Linked DNA regions of Homo sapiens: region 2 is linked to region 1. A link means that fine-mapping ties the variant in region 1 to the expression of a gene that starts in the linked region. Tissue or cell type: whole blood. Region 1 holds a variant in brackets; the other region holds the start of a gene. All regions are shown on one strand. Distances are between the middles of the regions.

What was found. PIP is the estimated chance that this variant, and not a neighbour inherited with it, causes the effect.
Region 2: it holds the start of TRAM2-AS1, and the variant in region 1 is fine-mapped to the expression of TRAM2-AS1 in whole blood (INTERVAL, PIP 0.97).

What each region holds. Positions count from the first base shown.
Region 1 is chr6:52,628,603-52,636,708 of GRCh38, reverse strand. No RefSeq gene overlaps it. Among named protein-coding and RNA genes, the nearest start is that of TMEM14A, 38 kb to the left of the region's middle. The variant CAA/A (reference allele first, on the strand shown) is at 4,149.
Region 2 is chr6:52,573,413-52,581,518 of GRCh38, reverse strand. It overlaps TRAM2-AS1 (TRAM2 antisense RNA 1), which reads right to left and starts at 4,317. Exons shown (of 3, transcript NR_103446.1): 1 at 3,126-4,317; 2 at 1,910-2,144. It overlaps TRAM2 (translocation associated membrane protein 2), which reads left to right and starts at 4,459. Exons shown (of 11, transcript NM_012288.4): 1 at 4,459-4,723. The coding sequence starts at 4,604. RefSeq lists silencers at 3,887-4,746, 6,604-6,653 and enhancers at 7,004-7,053, 7,655-8,106.

The DNA.
Region 1 (8,106 bases):
TATTTATTACAAAAAAGGGTTCATTTTGTAACCTTTTTCATTTAACAATTCAATTGGTCATGAACATCTTTCCCTATCACTAAATATTCTTCTGTGCCATCATTTTTAAAAACATGAGTGTTCATTGTAGCTTTATTCACAATTACCCAAACTGGAAACTACCCAAATGCCTTTCACTTGGTGAGTGGATAAACAAAATGTACTGTCTAGCTGTACAATGGAATGCTACTTAGCAATGAAAAGGAGACAAACTACTGATAAATGCAACATGCATGCAAAACCATTCTGACGAGTGAAAGAAGCCAGACATAAAAATGTAAATACGAACTATAGTAAGAATGCAAATACAGTCACAAAAACTTGGGGTTGAGGGTGGAGGGACGGATGGACTGATGACAGGCAAGATAATACTTTTGAGGGTGATGAAAATACTCATATATTGGTTGTAGCTGTAGTTTCACTTGTATTTGCATGCCTTAGAACTCATGAAATTGTATATTTTGTTGTGTTTGGCGTTTTACATTTTTAAAAATGTATTACTAATATTACTTTTGATTGACAAATCATAATTGTATACACTTGCAGAGTACATAATTGTATACACTTACAGAGTACAATGTGATGTTTTGATGTGTGTATGCAATGTGGAATGATTAAATAAAGACAATTAGGATATCCCTCACTGGCTGTGCACAGTGGCTCACGCCTGTAATCCCAACACTTTGGGAGGCCGAGGTGGGCAGATCACCTGAGGTCAGGAGTTCAAGACCAGCCTGGCCAACATGGCAAAACTCCATCTCTACTAAAAAACACAAAAATTAGCCGGTTGTGGTGGCGGGTGCCTGTAATCTCAGCTACTTGGGAGGCTGAAGCAGGGAGAATTGCATGAACCCGGGAGGCAGAGGTTGCAGTGAGCCCAGATCATGCCACTGTACTCCAGCCTGGGCAACAGAGCAAGACTCCGTCTCAAAAAAAAAAAAAGTATCATATATATATTTATATATAGATCCCTCACCTTGCTTACCTATCATTTTTTATGATAAGACATTTGAACAAATTATACATTTTAAGGGGCTGAATAATGCAGGCAAATTATAGCTCAATAAAAGTCATTTAAACAAAAAGCATCATTGAGGAGATGCAGTATAGGATATAGACTGGGCACTAAAGGAAGTGGGGCAAGCATGGCTGATGCAATTAAAGACAAAACAAGAATCAAGTAGTCAGAAGCATGAAAGGATGGAAAGTTGAGATAAGAGAGTACGTAGAGTTTAGATCTTAGCAAAAAGAGTTTTAAGTTGAATTAGAGCTCTCAGTTAAATCTAGTTAAAGTTATTTAGGCTAAAATGGTGATTCATCAACTCATAGCAGGTTTTTTTTAAAAAGTTGAACAACTGAAATCAGAGTGGAGTGAAGCCAGGACTTTTTTTCCAGCTCTCTGATTTCTAACACCACCTTAAGCGGGGAAGCAGGAAGGAAGGATGCGTAGGGTGCCTCATTATAACCTCACAAGGGTACGGTCCCCAGTTGGTCTTAGCAGGCAGGGACGGGGGTGAGATCACAGATTTTTCTGTGGTGTTTAGCTGGAGTAGAGTCATTATTGTCTAATAGTTTTCTGTCTCCCTAAGCTGTCCCTTTCTGATCCTTTGGCAAGAGTGAGCAGGCTTTTTCTAGGTGATTGTGTGAGTGTGTGTGTGTGTGTGTGTGTGTTTCCATTGATATTTCCAGGTTGCTGGCTTCTCAAGCAACTAGTCTGGGATATATGTATATGAAGCAAAAACAAAGCCCAGGGAGCTCACCCACTTGTTTCTGTGATCCCGAGGTCAACTGCTGGTCTGCCTTCTTTCCACCTTTCAGAGTCTTCTTTTCTTTGTTTTATATAAAATGTACAGGGTTTTTTTAGCTGTCCTTGGCAGAAAGTATAAGAGAAAAGTACGTCTACTCAATTTTTCTGGAAGCAGAAATTTCCTTGATGGCTTTTTAAAAATTAGATTGTTTGTCTTTTTCATTATTGAGTCACAGGAGCTATTTTTTATTCTGGATACAAGTCCTTTGTCAAATATATATGCTGTGAATATTTTTCCCATCTGCAGCTTGTTTATTCAATTTTTAACAGTGTCTTTTGATGAACAGAAGTTTTAAATGTTGATGAAAGTTCATTTCTTCAATTTGTTTCTTGTACAATTAGTGCTTTGTGTGTGCTGAAAAAGAAATATTTGCCTATCTGTAAGTTGTAAAAATAACCTCCTGTGTTTTTTTTCTAGAAGCTTTATGGTTCTAGCTTTCGTGTTTAGCAATATGATTCATCTCAAATCAATTTTTGTGTTTAGCGTGAGGTATGAATTTCAAGTGTTTTTTTCTGCATAGATAGCTTGTTGTTCCAACACCGTTTGATGAAAGTGTTTCCTTTCCCCTTTTAGTTTCTTTGCTATCTTGGTCAAAAATCAATATATATGGGACTATTCTTATATTGTATTCTTATCCAGTGATCTATTTGGTTGTCTTTATGTCAATACCACATTGTCTTGATTACCATGGCATTATAGCAATTTTGAAATTAATGATAGTATACATCCTCCAACTTTGGTTTTTTGCTTTTGATTTTGTTTTTTTTTTTTGTTTTTTTTTTTTTTTTGGTGCTTTTTAAGAATTGCTTTACCTCTTTTAAGGCCTTCAAATTTCTAGAAAAATGTTATAGTCCATTTGCCAGTTTCTACAGAAAAGGCTTCTGTGATTCTGATCGGGCTTGTGTTGAATCTACAGGCCAATTTTGGGAGAATTGACATCTTAACGATAAGTGATAGTGTCTTTCCATTTGTTTTTCTTCTTTGATTGTTAGCAATATTTTATAATTTTTCAAGGTGTATGTCTTACACAAATTTTATTAAGTGCATTCCTAAATATTTTGAGTTTTTGGTGTTATTCTAAATGGTATTAAGTTTCAGTCTTCAAATGTTCATTTGCTAACATATAGAAATACAACTGAACTTTATATATTAACTTTATATCCTGCAATCTTCCTAAATTTACTAATTAGCTCCAGTAGCTTATGTTAAGTTATTTAGAATTTTCTGTGTAATCATATCATCTGCAAATAAAGACAGTTTTACTCTTTCTTTTATGGTTTTGTGCCTCTTCTTTATTTTTGTCTTTTTGTGCTGTTGAAGACATCTAATAGAGGTGTCTAAGACCTCTAATAGAAGTGGTGAAAGTAGAAATACTGGCCCTGATCAAGGCCAGTACTTAGGGGGAAAATGTTTTAATCTGTCACCATTAATAGGTTGTCAGCTATAAAGTTTTCATTGGTGTCTTTTATCACAGGGGTCCAACCCCTGGGCCGTGGACCAGTATTGGTCCATGGCCTGTTAGGAACCGGGCCACACAGCAGGCAGTGAGCGGCAGGCAAGCAAGGATTACCAGCTGAACTCCACCTCCTGTCAGATCAGCGGTGGCATTAGATTCTCATAGGACTGTGAACCCTTTTGTGAACTGCGCATGAGAGGGATCTAGGTTGCATGCTCTTTATGAGAATCTACTAATGCCCTGATGAAACCACCACTCCCCACCCCCCACCCCGCCCACCTCACATGTCCGTGGAAAGACTGTTTTCCATGAAACCAGTTCCTGGTGCCAAAAAGGTTGGGACCACTGCTTTATCAGGTTGAGGAAGTTTTCTTCTGTGTTTGTTGACAGGTTTTATCATGAATGGTTGTTGAATTTTGTCAAATGCTTTTCTACATCTATTGAGATGATCATATGCTTTTTCTTCTTTATTCTATTAAATGGCATCAGTTTATATTCAAACATTAAACTAACATTGCATTCCTAGTATAACCTCCATTTGATCATGATGCATTATTCTTTTTCTATGTCATTGGGTTCAATTTGCTAAAATTTTAAGGACTTTTGCGTCTATGTTCATGACGATATTAGTCAGTTTTCTGTAATGTCTTTTTCTGGTTTTGATATCAGAATAGTTTTGGACTCATAAAATGAGTTGTTGGCTGGATGCAACAGCTCGTCCCTATAATCTCAACACTTTGGGAGGCTGAGACAGGAGGATCACTTAAGGCCACGAGTTTAAGACCAGTTTGGGCAACATAGTGAGACCCTATCTCTACACACACACACACACACACACACACACA[CAA/A]ATTAGCCAGGTGTAGTGGCGCCTGCCTGTAGTCCTAGCTACTTGCTAGGATTGCTATTTGGAAGATTGCTTTAGCCCAGGAATTGGAGGTTACAGTGAGCTATGATTGTGCCACTGCACTCCAGGCTGTGTGATCAAGTGAGACTCTGTCTCAATTTTTTTTTAAGCTTTTAAGTGTTTCTAAAATGAATGTTGTAGAATTATTATTTTTTCCTTAAATGTTTGAGATAATTTATCAGTGAAGCCATTTTGTATGTATAGATTACCTATTTCCCTTCTTTAAGGAATCACAGTCCTCCCTGAATGCCGTCCAGTGTCTTATCATAGTTATTTTATATATTGTGTGTGGTTTTGTGGTTGCTGAGAGTGGAGGGATGTCTGGTACTAGTTACTCCATCATGACTAGGCCAGAAGTCTCTAGTAAAATGTTTGTTTAAGTTGATATTATTATTAGGGTAATTTTAGATTCAACAGATTCAATATTATCCCAATATTGAAACTACCTCAATAGTTTATACTAATTGCATTTCTATTGAATCCACCCCCAAATTAAATATTCATATAACTATACAATTCAGTATTAGCAAAGACTAGTACAATGAACAATAGTCTTATACCTACTACCTAGATTCAAGTATTAATAAATAACATTACTTTTACTTCAATTTTAATATACTTTTTTATATGGAATAAAAAGTAGTAAAGTTACAGATAGAGTTATTTTATGTAACTCTGACATGCCCCAGGAGTATGTTTTGCATCTCATTCACTATGCTTATTAACAACAGATTAAACATTTGAAACCCATTATTTAGAGACTTACATGTTTCAGAAAGATTATCATTTAAATATACAAAACTTTTCTAACAAAAAACATATGTGTGTATGATTCCGGCATTTTATCAGAAAAAAAGGTGTTTCCCAGTAGGCGTGCACTAGAACTTTGCAATTATGTTTGTATCTTCTGCATGGCTTTGTCCCTGCTGCTTCTCGTCATAGGATTAGACCCTGTAGAAAACAATCACTTTCCAAAATGATATATAATATCCAGGTTAGGGGGAATTATTAGACTCAAGTCTCTCTGCATAAGGAACCATGCTGGAAACCTAATATTTTGCTTATCAGGCCTCCTCTGAGCCTAAATCTGCTTTCTCAAACAATGAAATAGATTGCTTCAACTTCCTTTTTGGAATTAAGTGGGAATATTAAACAAATGATAAACTAAAATTTAAAACCACTGGACAGTTGTAGTTCTTGCCTTCACTTAAGTGAAAGAGTTTAGGCTCTACTACTTAAAGTACTCCCACCTCACCATTTGGACCACTTACGGTCTGAAGGCTGCATCCTACTCCTGGGTCCGAAGAGCTAGGGGTGACAGCTAGGGTCTACCATGCTATACCAGTGGGAAATTTGAAGCAGGAGTAAATTTTAAAAGAAGGAACTTACATATTGTTATATTGACACTGTCATTAAGGATAATGTGACATTAATGTTACATCCTTTGAAAAACCTTACCATATGGAGAATATGAGGGAATACGGAGAATGAGGGAACACGCCAACTGAATAGCTAGCTCTAGGGAAAACTTATTTGTAAAAAGTACATTAGGATATAATGTAACAACATATTCCTCTGTTAACGGTACTGGTGAATTCTGGCATTTAGCTAGGATTGCTTCAGTCCTTTTCTGGCTGTCTGTCCCCAGTCAAAATTAACTACTAGTGCAATAGGAGTCAAAAATCATGTTAATCTCTGCCAACGAATACACAATCAAAACAGGTTGATGGTTTATTGCAAGCCCGTGGTGTTTCTAAATCACCAGGAAGCGATAAAAAATTTAAATGCCCAACCCTCATTCCTAGACATCTGAATTTGATTAATCTGAGTGGAGACTAGGCATCAATATTTTTTCATAGAATTTTTTTTAATTTCATAGAATCCTGTTATGTTTTCTTTTTCACAGTTTTATAGTTTTACCACTTAAATTTATGTCTTTGGTGTATTTTGGGATAATTTTTATATATGGTATGAGGTCGGGGTCCAACTTTATTCTTTTGCATGTGGATTCTCTAACTGCTCCAATACTATTTGCTAAAAAGGCTATTCTTTCCCTGTTGAATTGTCTAAGGAGCCTTGTCAAAAATCAGTTGGCCACATAGACACATGGGCTTATTTCTGGACTGTTGATTCTATTCCATTGATCTATCTCTATCCTTATGCCAGTACCACACAGTCTAGAGTAGTGTAGCTTTGTACTAAGCTCCAAATTGAGAAGTGTGAGACTTACAACTTTGCTTTTTTTTTGAAAGGAGTCTCACCCTGTCACCCAGGCTGGTGTGATCTCGGCTCACTGCAACCTCCAACTCCCAGGTTCAAGTGATTCTCCTGCCTCAGCCTCCTAAGTAGCCGGGATTACAGGCACAGGCCACCATGCCTTGCTAATTTTTGTATTTTGAGTAGAGAAGGGATTTCACCATGTTGGCCATGCCGGTCTTGAACTCCTGACCTCTGGTGATCCACCCGCCACGGTCTCCCAAAGTGCTGGGATTACAGGCATGAGACACCGCGCCCTACCTGTTGTTCTTTTTCAAGATTATTTTGATTATTCTGGGTCCCTGTATTTCCCTATGAATTTTAGGATCACGTCAATTTCTACCGAAAAAAAAAAAAGCCAGCCTGGATTTGTACAGAGTTGTGCTGAATCTGTATATCAGTTTGGAGAGTATTGCAATTTTAACAATATTAAGCCTTCCAATTCATTAACATGACATGTTTCCATTTATTTAGGCCTTCTTTATTTTCTCTCAGTGACATTTTATAGTTTTCAGTGTATAAGTCTTGCAGCATCAATTTTTTTTTCAAGCTTTTCAGGCGATTACCATATGCAGCCATTGTTGAGGACCATTGCTTAAGTTCCCAAAGATGAGGAGCATTTCTCATTGTCCCCAAAATCACAAATCTTAGGTAATCTGTCCATATGTGGTCCTGCTAAGGACAGGGAAATAGGGTTTATCTTGACCAGGAAGACCTACTTCCGAGAGATGTCCATTTCATAACATTTCATAAAAAGAACTCTGGTACTAATATTTAATTACACCCTACAGATAATCCTAGAGTTGCAAAATCTTGAGAGGCCTAAGAATTTATTTATGCTGCTCCAGAGAGGTGAGAGTCCATCTTATTTTAATGTCTGCTAAGAGCAAATGTTCTTTGAACAATCTCCATCAGTAACCCATTCCCATGTTAACTAACTCTCCTCTGAAAACATCTTCACCCACCTTCCCCAACCCACTACCTCTGCTTTCCTATTTATAATGAGATTTTTAACCCCCTGGGTTCTTCATTCCATCTGTACCAAATTTATGATCTGTCTAAATTCCCATTATTATAACTTCAGGCCATTTCTCAGTAGATCTGAGGAACATCTGTTCACCATTTTGAGTACAAAGACTAGAAAGCTCCTGTTATTTGTTTCGTTGTTGTTTGGTTGGTGGGTTTGATTTGGTTTAGATTGATTTTTTTCCTCTGGTTCTTGATTTTTGCCTTTCTGACACATACTATTTTCTAGGTTTGGCAAAACCACTATGAGATCTAAATGGAATGAAATGACCTGTCACCTTAATACCATGTTTTATGATCCCATTAATGGCAAAGGTAGACCATGAGTAGCTGGAGGTGTTGACTTAGGATGCTATTCTGACCAACTGCCAGTCTGTCTTTGAATAAGCTTTGAATAACATCAACACATTGATCCATCTGTGGCCATGGTCTGTCCCCGATTCCACAGTTCTCCCTTTCCTATTTTTTTTGTTTTGTTTTTGACAGAGTCTTGCTCCGTCACCCAGGCTGGAGTACGGTGGTGTGATCTCAGCCCACTGCAACCTCTGCCTTCCAGGTTCAAGCAATTCTCATGCCTCAGCCTCCCAAGTAGCTGGGACTACAGGTGCACATTGCCA
Region 2 (8,106 bases), 55 kb after region 1:
TAGCTCAAGTATTTTCAGTATTTCCCTCTCTCCTGGGTTTTTCCTCTCTGTCTCCAAATATGCTCCAATCTCAAAAATTAAATATAATTTAAAGGTCCTTCCTTAGATCTTCCATAGCCCTCAAAACACCATCCATTTCTCTTTTTCTCACAAAACATTTTTTTACAAACAGACGTTTTTACCCACCTCCTTTTCTCAACTTCTACCTACTGTTAAGCCCACTCTAATGTTCAATTAAGTGGTCTCTAAAAGCCACGATGGCTGAATCTGGGAGTTTCATCTCATTCTTGTTCTGCCTGATTCAACCTGTCCTTAACGAAATTCTTATGTCGTGGCTTCCTCTACGCCACGCTTTCCTTTTCCTCATCTTCCCCCATTCCGAGTGTCGGGGTTCACTAGGATTCTGCTGACCTCAGACTTTTTCTCATTCTCTCAGAACACTTATATAACCTGATGACCTCAACAGTCCTACTGAAGATGAACTGAAAATACTTTAGTTGTGATTTTCCCTCCCCAAGTCCAATCCAACAGTTTCCAACTGAGCTGTCAAAGTGTTCCATGGCTCCTCAACCTCAGCTTGTTCAAAGCAGAGGCCATCTTCTTCTCCTCCCTTAAACATGCTCTTTATCTGTTATTCCAAATAAATTTTTTAATGGTCCCACCATCATTTATGTTATCCCAGATGCAAGTTCTGACTCATTCAACTCCCTTTTATTCTTACTGCTACTGTTCTTTGAGGAGTGCTAGCCAGACGCAGTGGATCATGCCTATAATCCTAGTACTTTGGGAGGTAGAGGCAGGAGGATCACTTGAGCCTAGGAGTTCGAGACCAGTCTGGGCAACAGAGGGAGACCCTGTCTCTACAAAAAATAGAAATAAATTAGCCAGGCATGGTGGTGTGTGCTTGTAGTCGCAGCTACTCGGAAGCTGAGGCAAGAAGATCACTTAAGCCCAGGAGGTTGGGGCTGCAGTGAGCTGTGATTGCACCATTGCATTCCAGCCTGGGTGACAGAGACCCTGTCTCAAAAAGAAGAGAGAAGTGTCCATTTCTTTACTGGACTGTTATAATAGTTTCCAAAGTGGTCTTCCTGTTTAAATCAGGATGGTCTTCCATACTCCTGATAGTTCTCCTCTAAAGACAGATCTGGTCATGCTTAAAAGCTTTCCATTTCTTGCCAGGCACAGTGGCTCACGCCTGTAATCCCAGAACTTTGGGAGGCTGAGGTGGGTGGATCACCTGAAGTTGGGAGTTCAAGACAAGCCTGACCAACATGGAGAAACCCTGTCTCTACTAAAAATACAAAATTAGTTGGGCATGGTGGCACATGCCTGTAATCCCAGCTACTTGGGAGACTGAGGCAGGAGAATCTCTTGAACCCGGGAGGTGGAGGTTGCAGTGAGCTGAGATGGTGCCATTGCACTCCAGCCTGGGCAACAAGAGGGAAACTCCATCTCAAAAACAAATAAACAAAAAACACCAACTTTCCATTCCTTCCCATTGTTTGCAGAATAAAGTCACAATTCTTTATCACAGCATACAAAACCTGCCACAATCCAGTTCTATCTTAACTCTCCAAATTCATCTATCACTCCTTTTCTGCATTCTCTGTCAGTACCATTTGTCAGGTAAAGGCCCAGCCCAAATGACCTCCTCCCTTACACCCCAGAGAGAATTAGGTTACCTTTTCCTTGTACTCAGAGTGTGCATATTTCAGGTTGTTCTTAGAGTCACCATCATCACACTGAATTGTAATGATGTCTCAGTCAATTCTAAAAGATTGTAAGCTTTAGCAGTGTGTATTAGCTATCTCTTGCTGTATAACAAATTACAATAAAATTTAGTGGTTTAAAACAGCAAATATTTATTCTCTCCCAGGTGCAGTGGGTCAGGAATTCAGGAGTGGCTTACCTGGCTAGTTCTGGCTCAGGGTCTCTCATGAGGTTGTAGTCAAGAGATTAGCAGGGGCTGATGTCATCTGAAGGCTTAACTGGGGCTGGAAAATCTGCTTCCAAGGTGGCACACTCATGTCTGGCAAGTCAGTGATGGTTGTTCGCAGGAGGTCTCAGCCATATGGAGGATATGCCTCCACAGGACTATGAGTATCCTCACAAAGTGGCAGCTGGTTTCCTCCAGAGGGAGTGACCTGAGAGAAAGAAAGCAGAAACCCTCAAATGCCTCTTCTGGCCTAGTCTTGGAAGTCACATACCATCACTTATGCTACCTTCTATTTATTAGGAGTGAGCCACTAAGTCCAGCCCACACTCAAGGTGGGGGAACGAATTGCCTCTTTTTGAAGGAAGGAATGTTGAAAAACTGGAGGACATATACCCATATGCCACGTAATGATATTCAGGTCAAACAACATATAAAACAGTTGTTTCATAAGATCTTAATGGAGCTGAAAATTTCCTATCACATAGTGATGTCGTAGCCACTGTAACATTGTAGCGCAATGCATTAACCACGTGTTTCTGGTGATGCTGGTGTAAACAAACCTACTGTGCTGCCCCATAATATAGTTTAGTATAAATGTGTAGCAAAAGGCTGGGTGCAGTGGCCTGTAATCTCAGCACTTTGGGAGGCCAAGACGGGTGGATCACTGAAGATCAGGAGTTCAACACTAGCCTGGCCAACATGGTGAAACCCTGTCTCTACTAAAAATACAAAAATTAGCAGGGGGTGGAGGGCACCTGTAATCTCAGCTACTCAGGAGGCTGAGGCAGGAGAATTGCTTGAACCTGGAAGGAGGAGGTTCCAGTGAGCCGAGATGGCGTCACTGCACTCCAGCTTGGGCAACAGAGAATCCGTCTCAAAAAATGGCGGATCACTTGCGGTCAGGAGTTCGAGACCAGCCTGGTCAACATGGTGAAACCCCCACCTCTACTAAAAAATACGAAAATTAGCCAGGTGTGGTGGCACATACCTGTAGTTCCAGCTACAGGCTGAAGCATGAGAATTGCTTGAAGCCAGGAGGCAGAGGTTGCAGTGAGTCCAGATCTCGCCACTGCACTCCTGCCTGGGCAACAGAGTTAAGACTCTGTCTCAAAATAATAATAATAGCAGTGGGGGTAACTTAAATTCAACCATCTAAACCTATAAAGAAACCAATTGTATAAAGTTCAACCTCATAGGTGTGGCCGCACGTTGCAAATTTGAACACATCTTCACAGGTGGAAAGTCGAGGTGCTTCAGAGTTCTTGATCTTTCTGTTCCTCACAAGACGAAGGTTCAACTTTGAGAAAGGTCAGCCTTGAAGTTAAATGAGGTTTAGTCCAATCTAGGCATTACTTTGTCATTTCCTTGAGAGTCAGATAAGGGAATTACAGACCCAAGACTGTATTTTAAGTAAGGTGGAGTGCAGATTGAGGAAGTAAAATTTCTCTAGGAACTCCATCCTGTCTCAATTACATTCCACCGCGTGCCACTTTTAAAAAACCATATTTATTTAGAAGTGAAATAACTGTGGACCTAATAAAAAATGGAATAGGAATTAGTTTTTTTTGTTCATTACGTATTTCTGCACATCTAGAAAGTAACTGACTGCTTCATTACTGGTAGGATTAAATCCAATATTTGCGAATATAATTTATTAAGAACACCTTTTGTCCTTCCAGGAGTACTTTTAAGACTTAATATTAAATAGAAACTTTCAGTGAGAAAGTTCCTTCCTTTTTTGCTTCTTCTGTGTTTATTCTTCCACTTCTTCTGATTAATATGTAAGGTAGACTTTCGGTGAAATGTGTGTAGCTAATTAATGGTGGCATGAGGGTCCCAAAAATTACTGGGCAAAACTGCAATCATCCACCCTCTCCCCGCATTGGAGCGAAAGCTCCCCTAGGGCAGGGTCTTTCGGTTTGTTGATCTACCTGAACTGTGCCTAGCCCACTGCAAGTTCTCGATAAATACTTGAGTAATCTCCATTCACTGATCGTCCGTGCAGGGCGCTGTGGCCAGCCAGAAGGCCGGTTCGCGGCTTCCCTGCTTCCGCCGCACCCGCGCCGCCCTCAGCCCCCGGGGCCACAGCCCGCAACCCCGGGAGCATCCGGCTGCCCGGCCACCCCCGGGGCGCTCGCTGCCTCCGGGGCCTGCCCTTCCCGCGGAGGAAGGAGCGGAGCGAGGAGTGGGAAAGCTGGGCCCACTTCCTGTCCGGGCAGGCCTGGGCGCCCGCCTCCTCCGCGGCCTGCTTTCTCCACCGCGAGCGGCTGAGCCTCGGGCCCCGAGAATGCGGCCGGGCGCGGCGCTGGCGCGGGACGAGGAGGAGCCGAGCCCCGCTCGCCGCCCCCGTACGCCTCCGCCCCGGTAGCCCGCGCGTGCCCAGCGGCTAGAGGGTTAAGCCCGCGGGGGGCGGGGCCAGGCGCGCCGAGTGCGGGCCGCGGGCTGGGCGGGGGCTGGGCGGGGGCTGCGGCCGGGGGCGGTTACGGGCGGCCGGGGGCGGGCGGAGGAAGGGGGCGGGCCCCGAAGTTGTTCCGCGCTGGGCGGGCGAGCGGCTGTGGGAGAGCGGGCGGCGGGCCGGCGGGCGGACCGGGCCGGTGCTGGAGAAGTTTGCGCTGCGGTTCGTGAGCGCAGGGTGCGGGCCCCGCCGGCCGCTGCGCGCCCGCTGCCATGGCTTTCCGCAGGAGGACGAAAAGTTACCCGCTCTTCAGCCAGGAGTTCGTCATCCACAACCATGCGGACATCGGCTTCTGCCTGGTGCTCTGCGTCCTCATCGGGCTTATGTTCGAGGTGAGAGCCTGGGGAGGAGGGAGCTGGAGGGACAGTGCCCCCTGTCGTGCACCGCCCGGCACACCCCTGCAGGTCAGCGGGCCCTCCTCTGATCGGAGGCTCCTGGCTGCCGTGTACGTTATCTGCACCCCGGCTTTGTGCACTGTACCCCTCCGGCCTGTACCCCGGCCAGCCCAGACAGCACCCCCAGCTCCGCGCCGTGCCAGCCATGCCATGCTCTGCCGCCCCCTTGGGCACTCATCGTATCCTGCAGCTCTGTCTGCAGCCCTGAAACCCCAGCCTGGCCTCGAACCAACCGCCGCGCTGCCACCATGGCTTGACGCGTGGGGTTCCCTTTCTGGCGTCCAGGAGCCAAGCCCAGAGACTCCCAGACCCGCAGTCATTGCACAACCCCCTCTTGCCCCAAGGGGTGGCCACTAGCTCTTCTGGGCTTTTCCAGTGGGAGAGACCCAGAACCTTTTCCACTTCCTATGTGATTTTCTGGGTGTTTTGCATCTCAGCTCTGGAACGTGCTCGGATGTTCACGTGTGGCCCTGGCCCCATCCCAGCAGTGGCCTTCTGCTCTCGTCTCGCTCCCACTTTTTTGCTGTGCTCTAGAAGGCCAATTTTTGGATATCCTTTACCACTCCGTGAACTGTCCCTTTAGATCCATCTGCGGCGACCCAGAGCTTCACCCCCTTTACAGAGACAAGAAGAGAGACAGGGATACCCTCCACTTTTTGGGGAAAGTTGATTCTCTTATAGTGTAGGAGTGGGGGGCAGAGGATGGGGATCCCACCCCCAACAGCAATGTCCTGGTGTCGGCCTCCCAGGCAGGGAGTTGTAGAAAGCCAGCAAGGGGTCAGAATTCACAAGACTGATGGGAAGGATTCCCTACTCTTGCAGAGCAAGAAAAATGTGATATTCAAAAGTGGGAAGAACTGGAGGAAGCTTGGCATGGGTTTGTTGCGGTATATCTTGTCTCAGAAGTGAGATATGTGAGCGACATTCCCCTCACTCTCACCGTGGTCTCCTCTGGTTCCTGAGACTCCTTGTCCTCCCTTCTGCGTCAGCTTGCTTATTGCATTCTCACGGTTGGGTTAGGAAGCTGTGATCATTTACAAACTTCCTTGGAGATGGAGGATGGCTTGCCTGGCTAAATTTCCTTCCCTGTCCCTCTGTCTCGGGTTCCCTGTATCTCTACGAATGACAAGGGCCCTAATTGGCTGGCGAAGCTGCCCTCAAGCTGGGAACGTTCTTGTGGTGGCCAAGTCAGGGTTGGATGAATGAATGTGTCCGTGGCTGAGCTTTAGGGTCTGTAGGAAATAAACGGTGGTGCTAGGACTGGGGTCTCCACTCCACTTTTTGATAGTGCTCCTTTAGTTCAGTCCCTCTCTCCTTCCTCTCCCTCTCACAGCTCTCTCTAGTGGTATATTGGGTCGGGCTTGCTCCACCTTGTTCTGGGTTCTCCCCTGGAAGTGTGTGGTGTCACACAGAGTCATATCCGTGTGTCTCAGTCCCTGTTCTGTGACTAGTCTGACTGAAAACTGACTGCAGCCTCAGTTTCCCCATCATTAAAGACGTTCATAAAACTGGTCTTCGTCACAGGGTGGTTGTAAGGTTTAACTGAGATCATATCAGCAACAAAAGCCATAACATCTCCTACCAACATGAAAAAGTCTCTTGCGCCTGGAGCCCTGTGATTATTTATCATAATAATAGCTTAACAAAATAACAGAATTTCCTTTGCCCAGCGCATTCTCTGCTGTCTGTTTGCTGTCCTCCATTCTAAGAGGCCTCCAAGTGCGTGTCCCCAGCCTTGGAGGGTGTGGCTGGAAAGATACACGTGACAGCTGTAAACCTCAAAGCCACAGGCTGCAGCGACGAAGTTTCTCGCATAGCCTGTGGCTCTCTCCGTCATATTTCTAGCATTTGTTAGGGTTTGTGGCCCTCCCTGTTTTATCTTTGCTCAGAAAGGGCTGCCAGCATTTGAGTTTGGTACCTACCTCCTTCCCTGGGTCTCTAGTCTTATGGAAAGTCCTGTGCATTAAACCTGCCACTCTAAAAGTTGAAAGGTGTTAAGAGCTGTTACTTCCAGTATCTGGTGAAAGAGAAAGGCCCAAGACGAGAAAAACAACAAACAAAACTACTCTTCCTCCCCCTTAGGCTTGTATTGGGGAGTGTAGCAAGGCCCCTGGTTGAAATGCCTACAGGCCCCCTTTTCCTGCCAAGCCCATCACTTCTTCCCATAGCACCTTGAACCTACAGGACCTACAGGGCAGGTGTCTCCTTCTTTTGGAGGTACTTTGTGAGATCATCAGTCTGTGCTTCTCTGGGAGAAAGAGGGCTTTGCCCTAAGCCTCCAGTAAGAAGGTCTTGTGTTCTTCTGTGCTGGGCACATGGTGGGGGCCTCACTGTCTTTACCCACCGACTAACTAACTCTCCACAGAGATAAGTATTCCTGGGGGTGGGGAGGGGGAGTTTGGAACTGCTGCCTCTATCAAATGAGAGCAGAAGCGTCCTGGATACTGTAGGTACCACAGAGAAACAAATGTGGGCATCTTCACACTCAGAGTAAAGCCTGGGGAGACGCCTCATAACCAAGCACAGGACTGGCTGGATATCACTTAGGATCTTCTGGGTTTCTCTCTGGAAGTGTGTGGTGTGCATGTGTGGGTATGTAGGGATGCATATGGTGCGATGGTAGGTGCAACTGGGGACTCACCACCCTTTTCCTAGAAGTGACGGCAGGAAGAGGTGCAAGGGGAATGGGAGAAAGGGGTGAGAGGACATAGGCTTTTGGGGTTCTGACTTGGCCCTGGCTAGGATTCCTTCATTCGGAAGCTGAGCCAGGAAAACTCAATTATAATTCTTCCCACAAAGAGCGACTCTCTTGGCCATTCCTCCTTCTGGGGACCTCTGTCGTGCCTCTGCCAATGGGCTGGGTCCCTCTCCCCCATCAGCCCACGCGCCAGGCAGCCACAGCCCTTGTGTCTGCATTGCATCCCTGCGTTGCTCTTTCCCCCACTCACTGGTCACCTCTTCTGCATTCAGGGGGCTTCTGTTTCCCCGTTAGGGACCCCAGGGCTTTAGTTCTCTGTCCCCAGGGAGATGATGACTCTAAATTCTTTCCCTTGGGATAATTTCCTTTTGGGAACACATATGAAAGGCTGTCTCTCCCCTCACCACTCACCCCTATTGCTACCCCAATTTTGGTTTAGTGTTGAGCCATCCTGTTTCGAAGGCAGGGGGCAGCTTTTCCCCCCTGAACCCAGGTTTTCTCCCAGTCCTACAGGCTGCTTGGAATAGAGAAGCTGCTCTGTGCAGCCACAGCACTTGGCTAAAAAATGTCAGGAATGTGGAACTTTATTTTCCCCCTCCTTCCTTTCCACCGTTAAGTCTGC